Linked DNA regions of Homo sapiens: regions 1, 2 and 3 are each linked to region 4. The links come from fine-mapping of genetic effects on gene expression. A gene starts in region 4. Each other region holds a variant in brackets. All regions are shown on one strand. Distances are between the middles of the regions.

Region 1 (5,812 bases), 49 kb after region 4:
CACCTCCCAAAGTTCCACCTCCTAATACAATCACCTTGAGAGTATGTTTCAAAAATGAATTTTGAGATGATACAAATATTCAAACCATACAAATATTCAAACCATAGCACTTAGGATTGCCTTTTGTGGTACTTGTTGCTGTTGCTAACTTCATGATGTGTTTTAATTAATAACCACCCCCCCAGGACTTTTACTTTCATAATTGAGCCCCGAAAAATAATGTATTTATATATATTTAGGAGATTTATAATGACTTATCTGAGAGTCTGTAAAATATAGCAGAAATCTCAGTGTTCAGTCACAATGCTGAGAAATACTAAAATTAAAGTTGTAAAGGATTTACAGAACTGAAAAATGGTAGCATGCTTACTCACTTTTTGCATGCTAAATTTATTTCTAGGCATTTGTGTTTTTTTTTTGGTAAGTAGATATTGTAAATGAGATTGCTTTCTTGAATTGTTTTTCAGCTCTTTCATTATTGCTTTATAGAAATGCTACCAAATTTTGTATTTTGATTTTGTGTCCTACACCTTTATTAAATTCATTTATCAGTTCTAAGAATTGGTGGAGACTTTAGGTTTTTCTGTATATAAGATTATATTGTCTGCAAACAGAAACAGTTTGATTACCTTGTTTCCAGTTTGGATGCTCTTTCTGTTCCTTAATTGTTCTGGCTAAGCCTTCCAGTACTATGTTGAATGTGAGTGGTAAAAGTGGATATCCTTTTCTTGTTCCAATTCTTAGAGGAAAGCCTTTCACATTTCCCTTGTTCAGTATGGCGTCAGCTATGGGGTTGTCATGTATGGCCTTTATTGTGTTGAGGTACATTCCTTCTATGTGTAATTTGTTGAGAATTTTTATCATGAAGGGATGTCGAATTTTATCAAATGCTTTTTCTGTGTTTATAGAAATAATCATTTAGGTTTTGTTCATTTTGTGATATATCATGTTTATTGATTTGCATGTATTCCTGGGATAAAGCCCACCTGATCATGTTGTGTAATTTTTTGATGTGTTGTTGGATTTGGTTTGCTAGTGTTTTGTTGAGGATTTTTGCATCTAGGTTTATCAGGGGTTTTGGCTTGCAGTATTCTTTTTTTTTTTGCAGTGTCTTTGTCTCGCTTTGGTATTAGGGTAATGCTGGCCTCATAGAATGAGTTAGGAAGAATTACCTCCTCTTCAATTTTTTGGAGTGATTTGAGAAGAATAAATGTGAGTTTTTTTATAAGTTTGGTAGAATTTAGCAGGAAAGTCATCCATTCTTGAGCTTTTCTTTGTTAGGAGACTTTATTACTGACTCAATCTCCTTACTCATTATTAGTTTGTTTAAGTTTTCTATTTCTTCCTGGTTCAATCTTGATAGGTTGTATGTGTCAAGGGATTTATTCATTTCCTCTAGGTTTTCTAGTTTGTTAACATAAAGTTGTTCATAACAAGCGCTGATCTTTTGTATTTCTGTGTTATCAATTGTAATGTCTTCCTCTTTTATTTCTGATTTTGTTTATTCGGGTATTCTCTCTTTCTCCTGGTTAGTCTATCTAGTGGTTTATTGATTCTGTTTATCTCTTCAAACAACTGTATTTCGATTTCATTGATCTTTTGTATTTTTTTAGTCTCTATTTTGTTTATTTATGCTGTGATCTTTAAATTTGTTTTTCTTTTACCGACTTTGGTAGAAGGAAAGATTTGCTTTTGCTTTTTAAATTCCTTGAGGTTGTTCATTTCAGGTCTTGCCACTGTTTTGATGTAGGTGTTTATTGCTGTAAACTGTTTTCTTAGTTCAGCTTTTGCTGTATCCCATAGATTTTGGTATGTTGTGTTTGTATTTTAGTTTAATAATTTTTTTTGTTTTCTTCTTAATTTTTCTTCATCACTCTACTGGACTCTACTGGTGTTCAGGAACATATTTTCATTTCCATTTATTTGTACAGTTTCCAAAGTTCTTATTTATTCCTAGTTTTATTCTATTGTGATATGATTTCAATTTTTAAAAATAGGTTGAGGCTTGTTTTTGGGTTATTATCTGGTCTATCCTGGAGAATTCTCCATGTGCTCATAAGAATGTGTATACAGTAGCTGTTGGATGAAATGTTCTGTAAATGTCTGTCAGGTCCATTTGGTCTGTGATGCAATTTGAGACTGATTTTTGTTGCTGTTGATTTTTCTATCTAGATGACCTGTTCAATATTGACAGTAGAGTGTTGAAGTCCTCAACTATTATTGTATTGGGGCCTGTCTCTCCCTTTTAATATAATAATATTTAGATCTATTAATTCATGCTTATGTATCTGGGTTTTCCAGTGCTGGGTGCATATATTTACAATAATTATATTTTCTGGCTGAATTGATCTCTTTATCATTATATAATGACTTTTTTTCTCTTTTTATAGTTTTTGACTTAAAAATTCATTTTATCTAATATAAATATAGCTACTCCCATTTAGTTTTGGTTTCTCTTTGTGTAGAATATTCTTGTTCATCCCTTCATGTTCAGTCTGTGTGTTCTTTATAGGTGAAATGAGTTTCTTATATGCATATAACTGGGTCTTGTTTCTTTTTTTAAAAAAATCTATTCAGCAACTCTATATCTTTTATTGGAGAATTGAAACCAACCATTTATATTCAGGATTACTATTGATAGGTGAGAGCACACTCCTGTTATTTTGTTGTTTTCTGGTTGTTTTGTGTATCATTTGTTCTTTTCTTCCTCTCTTATTGTTTATCTTTGGTGGTTTTCTGTAGTGATAGGGTTTGATTCCTTTCTCATCCTTGTGTATCTGCTCTGTCAGTTAATTT[T/C]ATACTTTCATATGCTTTCATGATGTTAAATTTTGTCCTTTTACTTCCAGATATAAGACTCCCATAAGCCTTTCTTATAAGGTTGCTCTAGTGGTAATGGATTTCTTCAGTTTTTACTTGTCTAGAAAAGACTTTATTTCTTCATTTCTGAAGAATATTTTTGCTGGGTACAGTATTCTTTGCTGGCAGTTTTCTTTCAGCATTTTGAATATATAATACCATTTTCTTTTTGCTGGTAGCATTTCTGCTGATAAATTTGCTGTTAGTATGATGGGGAGTCCCTTTTTACTTCATGCTTTTCTCTTGCTGTTTTGAAAATTCTCTCTTTGTTTTTGACTTTTGACAGTTTTCAGTAATGTGCCTTGGAGAGAACTTTTTTGAATTAAATTTACTTAAGGATTTTTGAGCTATCGTATCTTTTCCATGACTTGGGATATTTTCAGCTAGTATTTCATTAAATATATTTTCAATACCTTTTTCCATCTCTTTGTTGAATTCCTATAATGCGAAAATATGTTCACTTATTTGTGTTCCATTGTCTTATTGGCTTTCTCCATTCATTTTTATTGTTTTTTCTTTTTATTTTGTTTGACTTGACTATTTCAAAAGACCCATTTTTATCTTTAGAAATTCTTCCTAGAAAAATCAGTCTCTTCTGCTTGATCTAGTCTATTGTTGAAGCTCTTAATTTTGTTTTCTTATTTCATTCATTGAATTCTTTACCTCAATATTTCTGTTTTGTTCTTTTTTATATCTATTTGTGTTGAATTTCTCATTTAGATCATGAATTGTTTTTGTTTTCATTGAATTCTCAGTCTGTATTCTCTTGTATCTTGCTGAGTTTTCTTAGGATCATCATTTTGAATTCCTTTTCAGGCACTTTATAAATTTCCTTTTTTGGTGTCAGTTACTGGAGAATAGTTTTCCTTTGGAGGTGTCATATTCCTTGCTTTTCACTTCTCTTGTGGTCTTACATTGATATCTGTGCTCACTGCTTCTGATTTTATGTAGTTTTTGTAAGGATAATTTTTTTTTTCTGTTTATGTGTCTTGTAGTGCTGGTTTGGTAGAGTGTTTTCATTTTAGTTCTGGATTGGAACAGTATTGTCTTCTTGTGCTTTCTTTGGCGTATTCAGTGTCAGCTGTGTCTGCAAGTGCCTCAGTGGCCTGGGCTGTGGGTGTTTCTGTAGGCAGTGGCACAGCTTTTTTGGTGTGGGGCCTGCCAGGCAGGCTGACTCTCAGGTCCTTGGGAGCGTATAGGGGCTCCCTTGGTCTTGAGGGTAGTCTCCTCTCTATGCTGGGCCACTGCTTCTTGGTATACAGGTTGCTGTATGGGCTTGCATGCCTGAGTCATTGCCGTACCACTGGGTTCAGGGTGGCATCATTGTGCTGCAGCCTTCTCTGTAGGCATGGTGAGATAGTGGAGGGGTCACAGGGATATGGAATTGCAGGGATATTAGGCCCCAGGGAAAGATGCACTCTGGTAGTAGCTCATCTCTCAATATGGCTCTGTGCCGCAGCAGCCTGGGTCCTGGGGGTTGCGGGGGAGACCCAGCATGAGTTTTCTCTGGGGAGCAGTGCAGCCATGTTAACTTTAGGCAGCTCCCTGTACCCTGACTAAAGTGTACTCCGCTTAGTCCTCTGTGAGGACTGTGGGGCTTTCCTATAGCAAGCATTGCAGGCATCCATGGTGGCAACGGAGGCTACCTCTTACCTTTTCTCCACAATGGAGAGTTCCTCTTGGTTCAAGCCAATCCTTGCTGGATGCTTTACTTCCTTCTCTGTGATACTATCCTGAGTTTTTGTGTCCAGAGGCTTTTTGCCACTTCCTTGCTAACTTGCAGTGTTCTCTCTTAGACATTCTACTCAAAGTGCAGTTATCTCTTTGTTGTTTTGGTTCTTTGTGGAAGAGGCTAGCACTGGACACCTCCACTCAGCCATTGATGATGACATGTTCTTTGCTTTTGACTACATGTACTTTGAAAATCAGAGACAAAGGGGTGTTTTAAAGTTTTCCTTTCATGTCTCTTAGCAACAGCAAATAAATTTTCTTTGGATTGCAATTTTATAAGTGATAAAAATGTTTAGCAATATGATGGGGTGATTGAAATTTCTTGATAAAAGTTGCCAGTTTTTCTAATGTTTGCCGTGAAAAGTAGATTGCATATTTGAGTACTCAAACACATATATTTAATTGCTGATAGTATCCTATGCCACATTTTATTTTGTACGGCTCTTTCTTTTGTCTTTCAAGTAGAAAAATAAAAGTCTTGTGATATTTTGTGATAAATATGTGACCAAAGTTGAAGGAGAGTGAAAGCTGAACACTATATTTTAAGCTAATCTTAATTTAAAATATTTTTTGTTTTAACTTTATATTTTTGTTATAAATTTACATACAACATAGTAATTTTGAGTATTGTTTTGGTCACTCTTCTTTTTCCTTTTCTTTTTCTTGACTGTTTAAAAAATTAAATGGTTTTGAAGGAAAGTCACAGAATGCTTTGCTCTCATTTATTGTTTATTTTCCATGGCTATAAATCAAGTCCATAAATGAGAAAATGGTTTTGGCTTTTTCAGTGAGGCTTGAAGTGCTTGCTGATCATGGTGTCTGAACCAGTGGGGCTGTCCTTGGCTTTACAGGTGGCAGGCAGTTAATATTGATCATCTCAAATATCAGCAGTATATCTGGCATTTTATGGATGAAGAACCTATTTTATGGATGAAGAACCTAATATTCAGTGAGATCACTGTAAGCTGCTCCTTGTCACTCAGTGAGCAAGAGGTTGATTTTTTGAACTTCATGACAACTATGACATTATGCTGTTTTCTACCTTTTCCCCTTGGACATGGGTAGAGACAACTATTACCTGTTCAATTGCCCCTTGTTCATTGTTATGGAGGTCAGTGTACCATCATCCAGAGGAATCACTGGCCTTTCAATTACAGTCCCAAACTAGTCTGTTGGGATGTCCCACAGCTTTATAAAAAGAGGCTATGAAACCCATTTGATATGA
Region 2 (5,812 bases), 110 kb after region 4:
GCCCAGTGGCAGCTGTACTGCTTAATGGGCTCTGGTGGAAACCTAGGTGGTGGCAGTAAATCGGTCCCCCACGAGCATGGAAGAGGTGCTGAAGCAGCTGCAAGTGCAAAGCCCTGAGAAGGAGTGAGCTTTTGCTGGCAGAGTTGGATAGGCATTTTTGAATGCACTATGAAAAGTACACACCCAGTCCCTGAGGGATGCAGCAGAAGTAAGGGCCCTCCAGGTGCAGGCTGGGTGCCTGGAGGCCTGGCTACACAGCTCAGCAAAAGATTTAGAAGCTGCCGTAAGTGGGGACCTTCAGGTGCAGGCAGGGTGCCTGGAGGCCAGGCTACAGAGCTCGGAAAAGGAATTAGAGGCTGCTGTGAATGCAGGCCTGGGGCTGTCGTCTCAGCTGGAGACCCCCACTCTGATACCGAGGAGGCTGTTAGTGAGACCGAGGGGTCTGCTCCATAAAGAAGGGGAAGATGCCCTGCCTGCAGGGGTCCCCCCACTGGAGAACAGGGGGCCCCAACAAGTGACATGCTCAGAGATGTGGATTGATTTGGTTTTGGCCAGGATTGACTGAGAGAAAATTGATAAACAGCCAAATGAAGTACTCTTAACTTTGTGCAATTCCAGAAAATGCCCCAATGGGAGAAGGACATTGCTGCACAACCTGGTCCCACCTGGGCGCTTCAGCTCAAAGACTCCGTATGTGCTACAGCCAGGTGGGGGTGTAAAGCCTTTTCTGTATGATGAGGGAACTGGCTGAGGTTCGACTTAGGGGAACACCAGATGACTGGAGGCCACATGTGGAGTTGACAGTCCATTGTTACCCCACCAACATATAGCAAGTGCTGGTGCTGGTAGACACCAGCACAGATAACGTTTTGGGCATGGATATTTCACATGGCTTGGCAGCCATGCTGTCTATCAGTGGGCTTGACAAAACTGAGACAGTACCACTTTGTGGTGGACTTGGCCAATGCATTCTTTTCCAGAGAGCCAGGAGCAGTTTGCCTTCATGGGAGGGCAACAGTGGACTTTCACAGTGTTGCTGCAGGGCTATGTGCATAGCCCCACCATATGTCATGGTCTTGTTAATGATATTATGCTAACTTCTGATTCTCTTGCAGATTTAGAAGTGACAATGCTCCCCTTGCCTAGATTTAAGATGGTGCGGCTGAGACCACCTTCCTGGCAGCCAGGTGGGCTATTCAGCAGGCACAAGCCCTACGGGTAGTTGACCAGGGGTACCTGTTTGAGCTGGATGTGCATGTGACCACAGATAGTTTTGGCTGGGGCCTTTAGCAGCGCATGGAGCGCTTGAGAATGCCAGTAGGCTTTTGGTCCCAACTGTGGAAAGGAGCTGCGCTCCAGTATTCACTGTTAGAGAAGCAGTTAGTAACTGCATATGCTGCCCTTCAGGCTCGTGAGAGTACGGCAGGATGGGCTACAGTCGTCGTGCGGATGACTTAGCTGATAGCGGGATGGATGCATTCATGGATAATGACTCCCTGAAATGGGCTAGCACAGACATCCACTTTAGCAAAGTGTGGTGCCTACTTGGAGCAGCAGAGTACACTGAATACAAGTCCCTTAGCAGCAGAGTACACTGAATACAAGTCCCTTAGCAGCAGAGTACACTGAATACAAGTCCCTTAGCAGCAGAGTTGCAAGAGGTCTTGGGACTTGTAGTCCTAATGGAAGATAAGGCCATGGGGCCTGAGGCACCCCTCCATTCCTGATAGAGCATGGTATACGAATGGGTCTAGCTGGGGTGCTGCTATTGCCTGGACTGCTGTCACAGTTCACTCTAGTACTGACGCCATATGGTTTGATACCAAGTGTGGACAAAGTAGCTAATGGGCTGAAATCAGGACAGCATGAATGGTGATCACCAAGGTGGTGACACCTACGGTAATCTGCACCGACAGCTTGGCAGTTTATTGAGGCTTAGCCTTGTGGTTAACTATCTAAAAGTAACAGAAGTGGCCAGTTGGTCACTGGCCCATATAGGGCCAAGCCATGTGGCAAAACCTATGGGAGGAAGGATGACCTCCTCTGACCAGGTACAGAGATGAATGGTAACCTGTTGTTGCCTGCCCCAGTGCTCCTAAAGGCAGGGAAATAAAAGCTTGGCTAAATGTACAAAGCAACATTGGTGTAATGTCACCATGGGGTGGTTGCCCACCATAACCTGGAGTTGTTTTTCCCTGTATTACTGCTGTGGCCTCTGGGTCCAGGGTTTCACCCTTTGGGCATGTGTCCCCACTAGAAAAACTCCCTCTGCCTAGGGGGTGGAATGTAAGACCTATGTGTTGGGCCTGAGTGTCTGGGGCCTGTGTACCTAGAGCCTATGTGTAAGGTCTTGTGTCGGACCTGTGTGTCTGGGGCCTGGCTTGCATGCCCAGAGGCTATGTATGAGGCCTGTGTGTTGGAGCTGTGTGTCCAAGGCCTATGTCTCCCTTGGCCTAGGGGGTGGAGTGTAAGGAAAATGGATCTGCTGTGGTCAAGAATAGGCCAAGGCAGACATCCGGTCTTGCATGTGAGTCTGGAGTTTGGAGCGCATGTACACAATTCCACTCCTTACATAACCACGTCACGTGAGGTGCATTAGGTGATCACCCATGTGAGGTCGTGCTTGGCTTGGAGCCACTATTGTCTGTAAAAGGTATAATTATCCTGCTGACGCTGTACATATGGCTTGCGCCTGGGTTGGCTCGCGCCCAGGTTTGCACCCACAGTTCACGCCCAGGCTCACTCACACCAAGAGAGAGAATAAAGCCATGTCACAACTCCCCATGATTCCTCGAGTGTTCTTTCAGCTGCTCGTCATTCATCCACCCCCTCCCCTTGGTCTCCCGCTTGGTCTGGAACCTGACACTTGGCGTGACACAGTGTCTGGGTGCAGTTCATCCTATTGATGATGTGGAATTTGTGCAAAAATAAAAGTTAAAAAGACATTAGCATTATAGGTTAGTTTGCTTTTGCTGCTGTAACAAGTTGCCACAGTGTAGTAGCTTAAAACAACAGAAATCTTACTTTTTGGGTCTGAAATTTGAAGTGGTTTTCACTGGGCTGAAAGCAAGGTGTTAGCAGAGCTGTATTCTCTACAGAGGCCATAGGGAAAGATAATTTCTTTGACTTTTCCAGCTCTTAGAGGCCACCTACATTCCTTGGCTCATGGCCTGTTCCCCTGTCTTCAAATCTTTGTCATCTCTGATCTGTCCTTTGTTGTCATGTATCCATCTCTCCTT[G/GT]TGCTTCCATTGTTACATCACTTTCTTGTACTCTGAGCCCCCTCCTTCTTTCATTAAGGACACGATTACATTGGGCCCATCTGGCTAATTCAATATAATCTTCCTATCTTTTTATTTAATCACATCTACAAAATCTCTTTTGCCGTGTAAGATTCCAGGGATTAGTACATGAACACCTTTGCTAGGAGTCATTATTCAGCCCTACCACATATTAGAATACAATTTTTAAATTCCTTTTTAGCCTTTGTTTTTATGTTTTCTCAGATTGCCCTTGGAATTTCCAGAAACATGTACTCTGCAATCTGTTGTTTGGATAAAAATGTGTTGGTAAAAAATACACATTTCTATAAAAATAGAGAAGATGTCTTATATTTAACTGTAAAATTTAAGTTGGTGAAAAAAGAATGTAAATACTTGTTATTTCTTTGAGGGCAGAGAGAATTTCTCAAGTTTTGAATCTTTTTTTTTTTTTTTTTGAGAGAGTCTTACTCTGTCGCCAGGCTGGAGTGCAGTGGTGCAATCTCGGCTCACTGCAACCTCTGCCTCCCGGGTTCAAGCAATTCTCCTGCCTCAGCCTCTCAAATAGCTGGAACTACAGGCGCACACCACCACACCCAGCTAATTTTTGTATTTTTAGTAGAGACAGGGTTTCACTATGTTTGCCAGGATGGTCTTGATCTCTTGACCTTGTGATCCGTCTGCCTCGGCCTCCCAAGTTTTGAATCTTTCACTTAACAATGTCAAAATTATGGTAGATGCTTGTCAAAACTTGCTAAGTGACAAATGTGATTCTTAAGTGATTGCTCTGCCACATTTCTTGGGTCTTTAGTCATTTTAACAAGTGTTCTGGACACACACACATATGCACTTCTGCACACAAACATGGCTGTGCTGAGGTATTACCTAGCAGGTGTTTGGTTTACCGTGGTCTTCCAGACTTTAATTTCCAGTAGTTCTCACTTCAGTACCTTTCTTTGTCCTGGCCAGGCTTCTCTCATTAATCACTATTCCACCTACACCTGAGTCAGAGTCCTGTTTGGCCTTAGAAAGATGCAGTCTGAGTCTGTTGCAAGCAAGATGCTATTGGCTCTTTATCACTTCTCTCCTTTTAGTCAAATTCCCCACCCCTCAAAACAAATGAATACAAAATGTTCATAGTCACAAGACTTATGAACACAGACTGAGAAATGGGTTTGTCTTGTATTTATGGGCTACCATTTATCTATAAAAATGATATGAAAATACAGTGATATTTTAATTAATGTTACATGCAATTTTATTGTTGGCTGTGACCGTCACCATTACTGTTTAATTCTCATGTTTTTTTTTCTCTCTTTGTATATACAAATGAAGGAGTGAATTAAAAGTATATGATGCCAGCTGAAATTCAAGTAGATTATATAGACTTTATAAAGCATAAAATGGAAACAGCTCAGAAGTAGGCCATATACATGAGCCATCTTTGTGCCTGGGATTGATCACAGATAGGAAGTGCTTGGAATGCTACAGTTGATTACTTTGAGAGTTGCATTTATTCATATAGTTCTTTAACTATGAAAGGACGAGATCACTTTCATCATCTAAGTGTGCAGGGGTTTGTGAGTCTTTCAGACAAAGCAAAAGAGTGTTAAATAATCCAGAGACATGTAATTGATGGATTGGATTGCTAGTCTTTACCAGTTTTGCATCCCAGTGAGGCATATTAGCAGGCACTGAGCTGTGGGAGAGCAAGGCTGGCATCTTGTTTGCTTTTGCATTCTCATATCTGATGCTCGAAAGTTTTTTGAATGCATACATTGAAAAAGTATTTTAAATGTGCACATTTTTATTTACAGCTGCTGCTGAAGGGAAAGGCAGAAGTGGGGAAGACTTTTTTCAAAAGGTAAGTTGTCTTTTACTCTTGTCATGGTGATAAGTAAGAGGAAATATACTTATCTCAACAGCTACCCTAGAAGCCACCGAACGCTCCCCTTCATGTGGAGGAGAACAGGTTTCTATACGGGAGCTGGAAACACTCAGAGCTAGCCAGGAAAAGAGGGGATGCTGTATGAAACTTAACCATTCCAAGAAGGCTCCTTCCAGGGAAAATCTAATGAAATTTTTGCTTAAAGGCAAATAAGCAAAATGTAAGAGGGCTCAGAGGTGGATCAATTCATGTGGCATTCACACTTCATTTGGCTGGCATGTGACATAGGAAGGGGTTATTGTGCAAGGTAAGGTACACTATCCTATATGGTGAATATGGTGGGGGAGCTTTTCTAAAGATATTTAAATTAAAACAAATTTTAAAATGTTCTACTGGCCAAATAGAATGTGCCAGACTGCTAGTTTTCCATCCTTTGCTAAATTTATAGGCTCAGGCTGATGCAGTTTAGGTACTGTACCCCCTGACTTGGTGTTATCTGACATTGGTTAATCTCCAACTTATACTGAATACCCGAGCATTTCTAAGTGCCCTGGCCTTAGCTGGGGCAGGCTTAGCAACAAGGGTAAGACAAGAGAAGACGAATAGGCTGGATGCAGTGGCTCATGCCTGTAATCCCACCACTTTGAGAGGCCGAGGCTATCAGATT
Region 3 (5,812 bases), 79 kb after region 4:
TCACATAAGAGGAAACTGAGGTGTGGGGAGGTTAAATAATTTTGCTCAAAATTGTACAGCTGGCACACAGAGCTAATAATTCTTAGTTATTAAGTTATACAGCTTTACTTTTTTTTTTTTTAGTTTTTAATTTTTTGAGACAAGATCTCACTTTGTCACTCAAGCTGGAGTGCAGTGGTGCAGTCATGGCTCACTGCAACCTTGAATGCCTGGGGTCAAGCTATTCTCTTGCCCCAGCCTCCCAAGTAGCAGGGACTAGACGTGCATGCCACCATGCCTGCTGATTTTGTTCTTTAATTTTTGGTAGAGACAAGGTCTCGCTATGTTGTCCAGGCCAGTCTTGAACTCCTGGTCTCAAGTGATCTTCATGCCTCGGCTCCCAAAACAATAGGATTACAGGCATGAGCCACTGTGCCCAGCCATTACAAATTTTTTAAATTATTATTATTATTTTTTTTAGTGATGGGGTCTCATTATGTAGCCCAGGTTGGAGTGCAGTGGCTATTCATAGGCATGGTCATAGTGCACTGCAGCCTTGAACTCGTGGCCTCAAGCGATCGTCCTGCCTCAGCCTCCCGAGTAGCTAGGACCATATATGCACACCCCTTTGCCTGGCTTAAGTTATACAGCTTTTGTTCCTATCCTCACCCATGTGTATTTATTTCCAGGAAATCTACAATTTCATTTATTCATATGGGATTAACAATAAGCTATCATCAGTCCAGTGGGGTTATGAATGGTATGTTATTATTCTATCTCTACTAAATTCATTGAGCATGGAGCAGAAGTCTTGATTTTAATGGACTTAGGGGAGTTTGATGGGACTGTTTTTATGAAGGAGAAATTTGTCTTTTATACATAAGTTGCCAAAACCAGTGCTGTTGCTGACTAAGGACTAAGTGCCTATCCCTTGCCTAGCTATGCGCAGTCTGGCCTTGACTGGAAGCAGGAATCGTGACATCTCTGACCAGATTGGATGTAAACTGCCTGCTTGTGCTAAGGAGTTGTGTCTGCTGGTTCTTGGCTCCCATCCTAGAGTTCTCTATGAAATGACTCATTATAAGGAAGTCTATTAAAAACAAATCTCTCCCCATTTTAGAGTATCTCTTAAAATTTCTTCTTAATAAGAGAATTTTGGTGCTTTCAGTTCCAGTTAGTGCCAAGAAATTTGAAGTGTGTATTGAAGAAGGCTATGATAATTACAGTACTTGAATTTCTTGTAAAGATAGATGCTTTGGGAAGTGAGTGTATTTCCCTTTTATTTGAAAGACAGAAGCTTGGAAATTCTACCAGACTTAAAAAAAAATTTTTCTCTCACTGCAAATCCACAGCCTAATGGAAAGTGCTCCAAGTTTCTCTAGTGAAAGTGGCTTCACTTACCTCAGCATTTAAGATCCTTCCCCATTGTTGTAGTTTTATAGGTATTTTAGATTATCTATTTAAAAAGGCAGCTGCCTGTCAAATGATCCACATAAATAAAATAAGATTGTGCAGAAGTGTAGAATATAACCACATGCCAATCCTTAGGAAACAGTGGGAAATGTTTTACTTTAAAAATGTAGGGTTTTGCTTTTACAAAACTGATCTTTGACCACCGGTTCTCTCAGGCTTTGCCTTTTCTAGTTCAATGATCTTTTCTACTAGTTCCCCCCTCCCTTCCCTCAAAGGCCTGAATAGACACTTCCCAGTTTGGGAAATAGACCTTCATTAGTTACACCTGGCTCAGCATTTTTTTTTCTTTTCTGCACATCTGCTTAGCATCATGTATTTGAAGGTGCCACATACATGTTTGCTAACGTTGCTTTAGATGCTGTTGAGTCATAAGAAGATAAGCAGTGCTAGGGAGGATTCAGTCCAGCTTGATATTCTTCTCCACAAGTGTGACTTGGGTAGGGAAAGGGGGACACTTTCTTTGGTCAAGACGGAAAAACAGATTCATGTTACCTGTCATTAGCATAGTAAAAACTATGGGAAATGTCTTAGTCCATTCCGGCTGCTATAACAAAATACCATCAACTGGGTGGTCTATAATGAACAAAAATTCCCACTTCTGGAGGCTGGGAAGTCAAAGATCAAGCGTCTGGCCTTCAAAGATGTGCCTTCTCTGTAACCTCACATGATGGAAGGGGCAAAGGACCTCTCTAGGTTCTCTTTTATAAGGGCACTAATCCCACTCTTGAATGCTTCCTCACATGACCTAACCACCTCCTGAAGACCCCACCTATTGATAAGTATCATTACCTTGGGAGTTAGGTTTTCAACATATGAATTTTGGGAGATACAGGCATTCAGACCACAGTGGAAAATTAAGCTTAACTGATGGGGAGATTTAGGAGATGCAGTGAGAGAGCTTTGTTGTGCTGTGTGCTCTGTTCTCTCAATATTATGATTTTAGGAAGGCCATTGCCTTCTCAAGAGTTTAGGTATGTGCTGCAAGCACTCAGCTTTTTATAATTTACATCCTTCCTCTACGGATGGTTGAATGAATGAATTGCTCTGAATTCTTGTACCTATTTCTATTTCTGGCCTGTGCAATTGAGTTTAATGTT[C/T]GCTAACCACATATAAAGTTGTGCTTAGCAATGTTTCTCAAGTGGTGTTGTTTATTGTTTTTCTAGATTATATAGAGTAATACAGAATATACTTTCCAGAATATGACACATCTTTGTATTCTCTCCATACCTTTTATAATTTTATAAATGTGATTTTATAATGTTTTTAACTTATCCTTGCTGCAATGAAAATTTCCACAACAAAGTTTATTAGAGGAAAAACATACATTTTACTTACTGTATTAATTACCCTTATTTGAAGACGGTTTTTTGTTATGTGTTGTGATGAGAAATAACAAGCAGTATTCCCTGTATAGCCGAGTATTACTTTTGGCTAAAGTTAGGATAATGTTCTTTGCCCTATTTTGTCATTGCCCATTTTTTCTTCTTGTTAGGGAGGCAGAGGTGGTGGTGGAGACAACTGGGAACAGCTAGAACTGAGTTAATATCTTTAGAGAATAGTCTGCTATGACATTGTTTTTGTTTCCCTCTATAAACCCTTCAAATAATTTTTAAGAAATTCCTCTGGGCCAGTCGCAATGGCTCAGACCTGTATTCCCAGCACTTTGGGAGGCCGAGGCAGGCGGATCACGAGGTCAGGAGATCGAGACCATCCTGGCTAACACGGTGAAACCCCGTCTCTACTAAAAATACAAAAATTAGATGGGCGTGGTTGGTGGCGGGTGCCTGTAGTCCCAGCTACTTGGGAGGCTGAGGCAGGAGAATGGCGTAAACCCAGGAGGCGGAGGTAGCAGTGAGCCAAGATCATGCTACTGCACGCCAGCCTGGGTGACAGAGTGAGACTCCGTGTGAAAAAAAAAAAAAATAGCTGGGCCTGTTGGCGTGCACCTGTAGTCCCAGCTACTCAGGAGGCTGAAGCAGAAGAATTGCTTGAACCCGGGAGGTGGAGGTTGCAGTGAGCCGAGATCGCACCACTGCACTCAAGCCTGGCCACAGAGCAAGACTCCGTCTCAAAAAAAAAAAAAAAAAAAAAAAAAAAATCCTCTGCATTGAGAGCCAAGTGTTCGGGCTCGGTGGGTCTTACCCTGACAGAGCCCAGCACACTAAGATCCACTGGCTTGAAATTCTCGCTGCCAGCACAACAGCAGTCTGAGATTGACTGGGACGTTCGAGCTTGGTGTGGGGAGGGGTGTCCTCAGCAATGGTCCACCATTGCCTATGCTTGAGTAGACTGTTTTACACTCACAGTGTAAAAAAAGCCACTGGGAAGTTCGAACTGGGTGGAGCCCACTGCAGCTCAGCAAGGCTGCTGTGGCCACACTGCCAGATTTCCTTTCTCTGGGCAGGGCATCTCTGAAAAAAAGGAAGCAGCCCAGGTCAGGAACTTACAGATAAAACCCCCATCTCCCTGGAACAGAGCACCTAGGGAAGTGGGTGGCTGTGGGCACAGCTTCAGCAGAATTAATGTCCCTGCCTGACAGTTCTGAAGAGAGCAGTGGACCTCCCAGCACAGTGTTCAAGCTCTGCTAAGGGTCAGACTGTTTCCTCAAGTGGGCCCCTGACCCCCTTGTATCCTGACTGGGAGACACCTCCCAGTAGGGGCCGACAGACACCTTATATAGGAGAGCTCTGGTTGGCATCTGGCAGGTGCCCCTCTGGGACGAAGCTTCCAGAGGAAAGATCAAGCAGCAATCTTTGCTGTTCTGCAGCCTCCCCTGGTAATACCCAGGCAAACAGGGTCGGGAGTGGACCTCCAGAAAACTCCAGCAGACTGGCAGCAGAGGGGTCTGACTGTCAGAAGGAAAACTAACAAACGGAAAGAAATAGCACATCCACTCAAAGACCCCATCCGAAGGTCACCAACACCAAACACCAAAGGTAGATAAATCCACAAAGATGGGTAGAAACCAGCGCAAAAATGCTAAAAATTCCAAAAACCAGAACGCCTCTTCTCCTCCAAAGGATCACAACTCCTTGCCAGCAAGGGAACAAAACTGGACGGAGAATGAGTTTGACAAATTGACAGACGTAGGCTTCAGAAGGTGGGTAGTAACAGACTCCTCCAAGCTAAAGGAGCATGTTCTAACCCAATGCAGGGAAGCTAAGAACCTTTAAAAAAGGTGAGACGAATTGCTAACTAGAATAACCAGGGTAGAGAAGAACATAAATGACCTGCTGGAGCTGAAAAACACAGCACAAGAACTTCATGAAGCATACACAAGTATCAGTAGCCGAATCCATCAAGCAGAAGAAAGGATATCAGTGATTGAAGATCAACTTAATGAAATAAAAAGAGGAGACAAGATTAGAGAAAAAAGGATAAAAAGGAATGAACAAATCCTCCAGGAAGTACAGGACTGTGTGAAAAGACTAAATCTACATTTGATTGGTGTACCTGAAAGTGACGAGGAGAATGGAACCAAGTTGGAAAGCACTTTTCAGGATATTATCCAGGAGAACTTCCCCAACCTAGTAAGACAGGTCGACATTCAAATTCAGGAAATACAGAGAACACCATAAAGATACTCCTTGAGAAGAGCAACCCTAAGACACATAATTTTGAGATTCTCCAAGTTGAAATGAGGGAAAAAATATTAAGGGCAGCCAGAGAGAAAGGTCAGGCTACCAACAAAGGGAAGCCCATCAGACTAACAGCGGATCTCTCCGTAGAAACCCTACAAGCCAGAAGAGGGTAGGGGCCAATATTCAACATTCTTAAAGAAAAGAATTTTCAACCCAAAATTTCATATCCAGCCAAACTAAGCCTCATAAGTGAAGGAGAAATAAAATCCTTTATAAACAAGCAAATGCTGAGAGATTTTGTCACCACTAGGCCTGCCTTACAAGAACTCCTGAAGGAAGCACTAAAAATGGAAAGGAACAACTGGTACCAGCCACTGCAAAAACATATGAAATTGTAAAGACCATCGACAACATAAAGAAACTGCATCAACTAATGAGCAAAACAACCAGCTAGCATCATAATGACAGGATCAAATTCACACATAACAATATTAACCTAAATGTAGGCTAAATGCCCCAATAAAAAGATGCAGACTGGCAAATTGGATAAAGAGTCAGACCCATCAGTGTGCTGTATTCAGGAGACCCACCTCAGGTACAAAGACACATATAGGCTCAAAATAAAGGGATGGGGGAATATTTACCAAGCAAATGGAAAGCAGAAAAAGCAGGAGTTGCAATCGTAGGCTCTGATAAAACAGACTTTAAACCAACAAAGATCAAAACAAAGAAGGCCATTACATAATGGTATAGGGATCAATGCAGCAAGAAGAGCTAAC
Region 4 (5,812 bases):
CTTTCACTGCTGCTTCTATATCCTTTCACATTACACTGTCCTCTACTTGACCACTGTCAGAATTTTAAAAAGTCACATTCCTTGGTTCCCTTTTCTTCTAAGTCTCTTCTTTTTCCCTAGACAGTCTGACCCAGGTAGATGGCTAGAATTGTTACCTATAAACAAGTAACACATTTTAATCTCTAGCCAAGATTCCTTTACTGAATTCCAGACCTATTCAATTGCTAACACAACATCTCTTCTTGGAGATCTCAACATCATTTCAAACTCAAAATGCCGAATTCAACTTCATGAACTTTCTTCCATTGTGATTTTCTTTCAATATTCCCAGTTTCAGTTAATGACACCTATCTCTCTCTTATTATGTTAGCCAGAACCCTGGAGATATTCTCAACATTTCTCTTCCCATCACACTATTTCTAATTCATCACCAATCTACTTGGTGATACTTACTGTTTAAATATTTCTCAAATCCTCTCATGTCTCTCATCTTCACCACCTATGTAAGCTAGCAGCATTTATTATCTAAACTTCCCATATAGTCTCTTAATTGGTCCAACTGCTTCTATCTATCCTTGTCCCTCAGTCTGTTCTCCACACTAGAGCCATAGTCAACTTTTGAAAATGCAAATCTAAGCACATCTTTCTTTACTTACAGCCTCTATATGATTTCCTTTTATTCTAAGGATAAAGACAAAAACTCCTTAATTTGACCTATGCTGCTTACATATGCCCCCTCTTACTTATAACTCCTGCCCCAGTGAGTCCTAATTCCTTGTTTCCTTGTACCAGCTACGCTGGCCTTCTTTTAGTTCATCCAATGGGGGAATGCATACTGCCCCCTTCTGCTACAGTGTCTTTACTTGTGCTAATCTTATTGAGAGCCAATATAACTTATTGGCTAAGCATAAAGCACCTGAAGCCTAATTTTCAAGAGACTGCCTGGGTTCAAATTCTTATTCTTCAACTTAGTCGTGCAACCTTGAGCAAGTCATTTTACCTTTTGTGCCTCAGTTTCCTCAACTCTAAAATGAGGATAATTGTAGTATCTACCTTCAGGGATGTTACTATGATCAGATGATCATTTGCAGGGATGGCTCTTCCTTCCCTTGCCTAGTTAACTTCTCTTCCAACGTCTGTTCTGAGTTAGAGTCACTGTTTCGAGAAGCCTTCACTGACCTCTCTGACTGAATCCAATTACTCTATCATAGGTTTTCTCATATCTTGAGTCTCTTGTTTGTAATGCTTACTGCGGGCATGATTTTATATTTGTGATTTATTTTTTGGTCAGTATTCCTTCTCATTAGAATTTCAGCTCCAGGAGGGAGTACAGGGATGTGTCTGTCTTTGCTTACTATTCCTTGGGCTTAACAGTGCCAAGTACATAGTAGGGTCCCAATAAATATTTGTTGATAGAAAAACACAGTAAATGTCCCTGATGGAAAACAGTGGGAATGCTCCTACATAAACCCTTTGGGTGCTGAAACTAGTGCCTTGGATAGAAATTAACAGTAATTAACAAGTTTATAAAAGGAACACATGGTGGTGAATCAGAGCAGTTAAGTGTGCAGATGCTCTCAGTTCTTCAGGAGGTGACTCTGGGCAGGAGGGGTCTCCGCTCAAAAAGGTAAGACTTTATATAAAGACCCACAGACCTGGGTCTGATTAATTGGCTGTATTATCTGCTGCTGGACAACCTTAGTCAAGTTACTTTATTTCCCACGGTCTCAGTTTCCTCATCTGTACCCATCACAGGGTCAATTCCTGTTAACTAGGCAGCTGAACCTGAAATAATTTTGATTTACCTTCAGCATATTCCATGATTATCCAGAGGCCTGTGCCAGTGATATGGCTCTTCCTACATGTGAGCCAGGCAGCCTCCTTCTGTGGCGCAGTGACAAACTGCTATCCCCATCATTCCTCCCCGCAAGTCTTTGTACTTTGGGTCATAAAATAATAGGCTATGAATCTGTGTGAACTGGGAAAACAGAGTTCCAAGGGCACACCCAGTACGAGCGAGTCTCCTCTTCCCCCGCGCTTCATATCCAAGCTTGACAGAGGCCGTGGGTGGGCTGGCCCTCGGCAGTGAGGCTCAGAGGTTACTGGCCGTCATCTGTCAGAGACTGACCTTGAAAACAGAGAAAAGCCCTCAGTCCCTGACAAGACAGCCCTGCCCACGTGCCAGCTGGATCCAGCTCGCCAACACAGCGATCTCCGAGCCCCTTTTCTACTTAAAAAAAAAAAAAAGTCTGCTGAGTCCATTCCTTGAGAATCACAGAGAAAACAATTCCTTCCTTACTCCATTCAAGAAAAAAAAAAATTCCCTTTCTCAGAATAAAAAGAGTAAGCCTCTTGTCCACCTCTCGTGCAGCGGGCCACTTTGCTGGGAGGAGACGAGGTGTCTGGGTTTGAGCCCTTCCTGGAGGTATGAACTACATGCGAGCCACGTCCATGGCGATGCCTGCGAAAGACGGGCATGATTTCTTCTCCAAGCCTTCTTTTTCCTCTTCCTCACGTTCGAGCTTGTGGAACCAACTGGGGCTGTGAGTTTCAGGGTGTAGGGTATGTATGTAAACAGCGGAATTGTGTATGCGCTTAGTGTGCGTTCAGGACTCTGCTGTGCTTGAACTTGGCGTGTTTGTGTTTGTGTGTTTGGAGGATTATGAGAGCATGTAGGGGGAAGAGATTTGTATGTGTAAGTGCAGAAAAGTAGTAGTGTGTGTGATGTGTGTGTGTAGACAGGAATTACGTGGATACTCCATGTGCGTTCAGGAGTGTGTGTGTTTGAGGAGCTATGAAAGTGCATGTATGGAAAGGATTTATACGTGTAAGTGCAGAAAGTGGCAGTGTGTACGTGGTGTGTGTGTGCGCGCGCGAGTGTGTGAGCGCCAGGGGCCGCCCGCCCGCCGCGGCTCCCCGTGGGCTGGCCGGGCCAATGAGCGCGCGGCTGTAGGGGCGGCGGGCGGGGAGGGGGCGCCGAGCCCTGCGGATGGAGGCGCGGGCAGCGCGGCGCGCTCATTCCGCGCGGGCGTTGCTGGCGGGGGGCGGCGCAGCCACTGGACCCGGACCGGGGCCGCGACCCGGGGTGGCGGGTGGCGTGGGCGGCGCCCGGGGCTGGGATGCGCCGGGGGCTCAGTGGCGGCGGCGGCGTTGGCGGTGGCGTCGGCGGCTGCAGGGGGACGAGCTAGCGCCGCGGCGCTGGGAGCCAGTTGAGCCCGGCCGGCGAGCGGAGGCGGCAGCGCAGGCAGAGCGGCGGCGGCAGCGGGAGCCCGAGCGCTGCGCGCCCACCATGGCCGCCCAGGGAGAGCCCGGCTACCTGGCGGCGCAGTCGGACCCCGGCTCCAACAGCGAGCGCAGCACCGACTCCCCAGTGCCCGGCTCCGAGGACGACTTGGTCGCCGGGGCGACCCTGCACAGCCCGGAGTGGAGCGAGGAGCGCTTCCGCGTGGACAGGAAGAAACTTGAGGCCATGTTACAAGGTAGGCATCCCTCGTGTTCTCGGACTCTCCGACTGAGCCTCTAACTCCTTTTCGGACATCCCCACCGCGCGCTCCGGCGCCCGCTACTCCAGCCTACGGCCGGCCGGTTTAGCTCCAGGCCCGCTCCCCCGCGGAGCCGGAGGACACCCAGGGACTGGAGACTTCGCGGGACTCCCCACCCTTCCACGCCTCTCAGATTTCCAGGCGCTGGGGGCCCTGTGCGAACTTGACTGGCTTCAGAAAAGCCGAAGGCCGAGTTTGTACTGGCGCGCCCAAGTTGCGTTCTGGACTTTGGAGATGCCAACTTTAGCCCGGACACCTGGGCTGTGCCATCCGGACCACTCGGGCCGCACAGAGTATGCGTGACCCTCCCCATTCCCTGGCAGCCTCGAGTTCTGTCTCTCTCCGTCTGTTTCACTCTCTCCCCTTGTCAGTATCCACTTCCTCCAGCTGAGGGGCCTTGTCTCACTATTGGGAAACGCTCTGCAGATGTCAAGGCTTAAGACAGGAGCTCCCGCCCCCACCCCTGTGGTCAAGGAGGGCCAGGATCGGGGTGAGCAGCCAAAGCGAGGGGGGAGTGTGGAGGCAGTGCTGCTGTGTTTGAGGACAGTGTTCATCTCTTGACAGGCTTATAAAACACATCTTGAGTTACATTCAGTCCATAAAAATCTTCCTATGCTATGGGTGTCTGACTTTGTCTTTCACAACTTAGAATTATTTTTAACTCTTTAATTTCTTTGGGACTTTCCCAGGTAGAAAATCTTCAACCATACTGGACCGAAAACAGATTCTGATTTATAATACGAGTGTTGGAGTGAACGTCAAAACGTCCAAGGTCATTTTGACCTTTCTTAAAACAGATAATTACTAGCCTACCTGTAGCCACCGATGTGGCTCATTTCCCACATCCAAAGAGAGAAATGAGTTAGTTTGAATGACTGTTATTCTTAAAATACGTGTACGGGACCAGGCGTTAGTCTCACTTAGGGCGCTGGTGAAGATTCATTCAGTAGCTAGTGTTCTTTTATCATGGAGGAGTTTGGAGTTTTTCAAACGTTATTTGTGGCTTTATGCATAACTTACTTTGACTTTATCAGTCAATGCATCGCAGTATGGGAATGATTTAGCCCTCTGTGGAAATGCAGTGGCTTTTTAGAACAATTAAGCAGGTTATTTTAAGAGAGAACAACATGTTTTCCAAAACAATAACTTGGTGGAAACAAATAGCAAGAGTGTTTGGCAGACGTTTTTTGGATGTGCTACAGGCTTTCCTCCCTTGTTGCTTATTTTTATTGACAAACATCCCTAATGTGTGTCATGTCTTTCTCTGTCTCTCCCCTTCCCTCTCTTTTTTTCTCAAATTATGTAACTTTTGAGGACAGTTACTTCTGTGATAAACTCTTCAAGTAAGACCGTTATAAGATAGATTTGGAAATTAAAGCCCCAGTTGCATTTCAGTAACTCATTTCAGTTATTTCGTCTGTTCTGTGGTTCTTTTTGCCTAGTTTATGATTATAAAACAAAATATTAAATTTATGTCAGGCATATATTGTGAGATCGTTTGGAATGAACTGATAGTAGCACATACTCATCCTTTTCAACCAGCTTTCAGTTTTCTACATTAGTTTGGAGTGATATGAAAGAATGATCTGTTTCACCTGCGCACAAACAAGTAAGGACAGTGATGTTAGCTTCTGGGAAGTTCAAGTGTATAACCTGAGCTTTAGAAGTGAATTTCCTTTTTTGATTTAATTCATTTTCACTTCGAATAAAATGAAATTTTGAGGAGACTTTTTGAAAATTTGAAGGCTCTTTTGTATTAATAGATGTGATACTACGATCTGAGACGGTTTGAAATTGCTTTGCAGTAATAGTTTCTTTTACAGAAAGTCTTAACATCTCTTGAACAACCGATATACAGTCATGCAGTCCATGCTTAAGGACTACGACTGGGATACCTTGTTAGAAATGTGTCCTTAGGCATTTTCATTGTGCAAACATCATGGAGTGTAGTTACACAAACCTAGGTTGTGTAGCCTGCTACACCTACTACCTAAGCTATATGGTATAGTCTATTGCTCCTAGGCTACAAATAATGTTACTAGGCTACAAGGCGTGTTACTATACCCAATACTGTAGACAGTTGTGGCACAGTGGTATTTGTGTATCTAAATATATCTAAACATTGGAAAGGTAATGTGTTATGTTACTATGGCTATGACATCACTAGGCGATAGGAATTTTTCAGCTTCTTTATAATCTTACGGGACCATTGTAGTGTATGTGGTTAGTTGTTGACCAAAACACAAGTGTGAGCACTGGGATCACTAATA

Which allele goes with the higher level. Positions count from the first base shown, and alleles are read on the strand shown. Sizes are in standard deviations (SD) of each study's normalised expression. Not every link is listed here.
In carriers of allele GT in region 2, the expression in sun-exposed skin of the gene that starts at base 3,018 in region 4 tends to be higher than with G alone (small effect, 0.27 SD a copy in GTEx).

What was found. PIP is the estimated chance that this variant, and not a neighbour inherited with it, causes the effect. A credible set is the group of variants that fine-mapping cannot tell apart.
Region 1: its variant is the best candidate, but not a certain one, in a credible set for the expression of BICC1 in blood mononuclear cells (TOPMed, PIP 0.61).
Region 2: its variant is the best candidate, but not a certain one, in a credible set for the expression of BICC1 in sun-exposed skin (GTEx, PIP 0.55).
Region 3: its variant is the best candidate, but not a certain one, in a credible set for the expression of BICC1 in blood mononuclear cells (TOPMed, PIP 0.53).

The regions. Positions count from the first base shown.
Region 1 is chr10:58,558,931-58,564,742 of GRCh38, forward strand. All of the region lies in intron 1 of BICC1 (BicC family RNA binding protein 1), which reads left to right. Among named protein-coding and RNA genes, the nearest start is that of BICC1, 49 kb to the left of the region's middle. The variant T/C (reference allele first, on the strand shown) is at 2,797.
Region 2 is chr10:58,615,781-58,621,592 of GRCh38, forward strand. BICC1 (BicC family RNA binding protein 1) reads left to right here. Exons shown (of 21, transcript NM_001080512.3): 2 at 5,075-5,121. Among named protein-coding and RNA genes, the nearest start is that of BICC1, 110 kb to the left of the region's middle. The variant G/GT (reference allele first, on the strand shown) is at 3,240.
Region 3 is chr10:58,589,354-58,595,165 of GRCh38, forward strand. All of the region lies in intron 1 of BICC1 (BicC family RNA binding protein 1), which reads left to right. Among named protein-coding and RNA genes, the nearest start is that of BICC1, 79 kb to the left of the region's middle. The variant C/T (reference allele first, on the strand shown) is at 2,550.
Region 4 is chr10:58,509,855-58,515,666 of GRCh38, forward strand. It overlaps BICC1 (BicC family RNA binding protein 1), which reads left to right and starts at 3,018. Exons shown (of 21, transcript NM_001080512.3): 1 at 3,018-3,479. The coding sequence starts at 3,290. It overlaps LOC124902427 (a long non-coding RNA gene), which reads right to left and starts at 2,198. Exons shown (of 2, transcript XR_007062147.1): 1 at 1,806-2,198.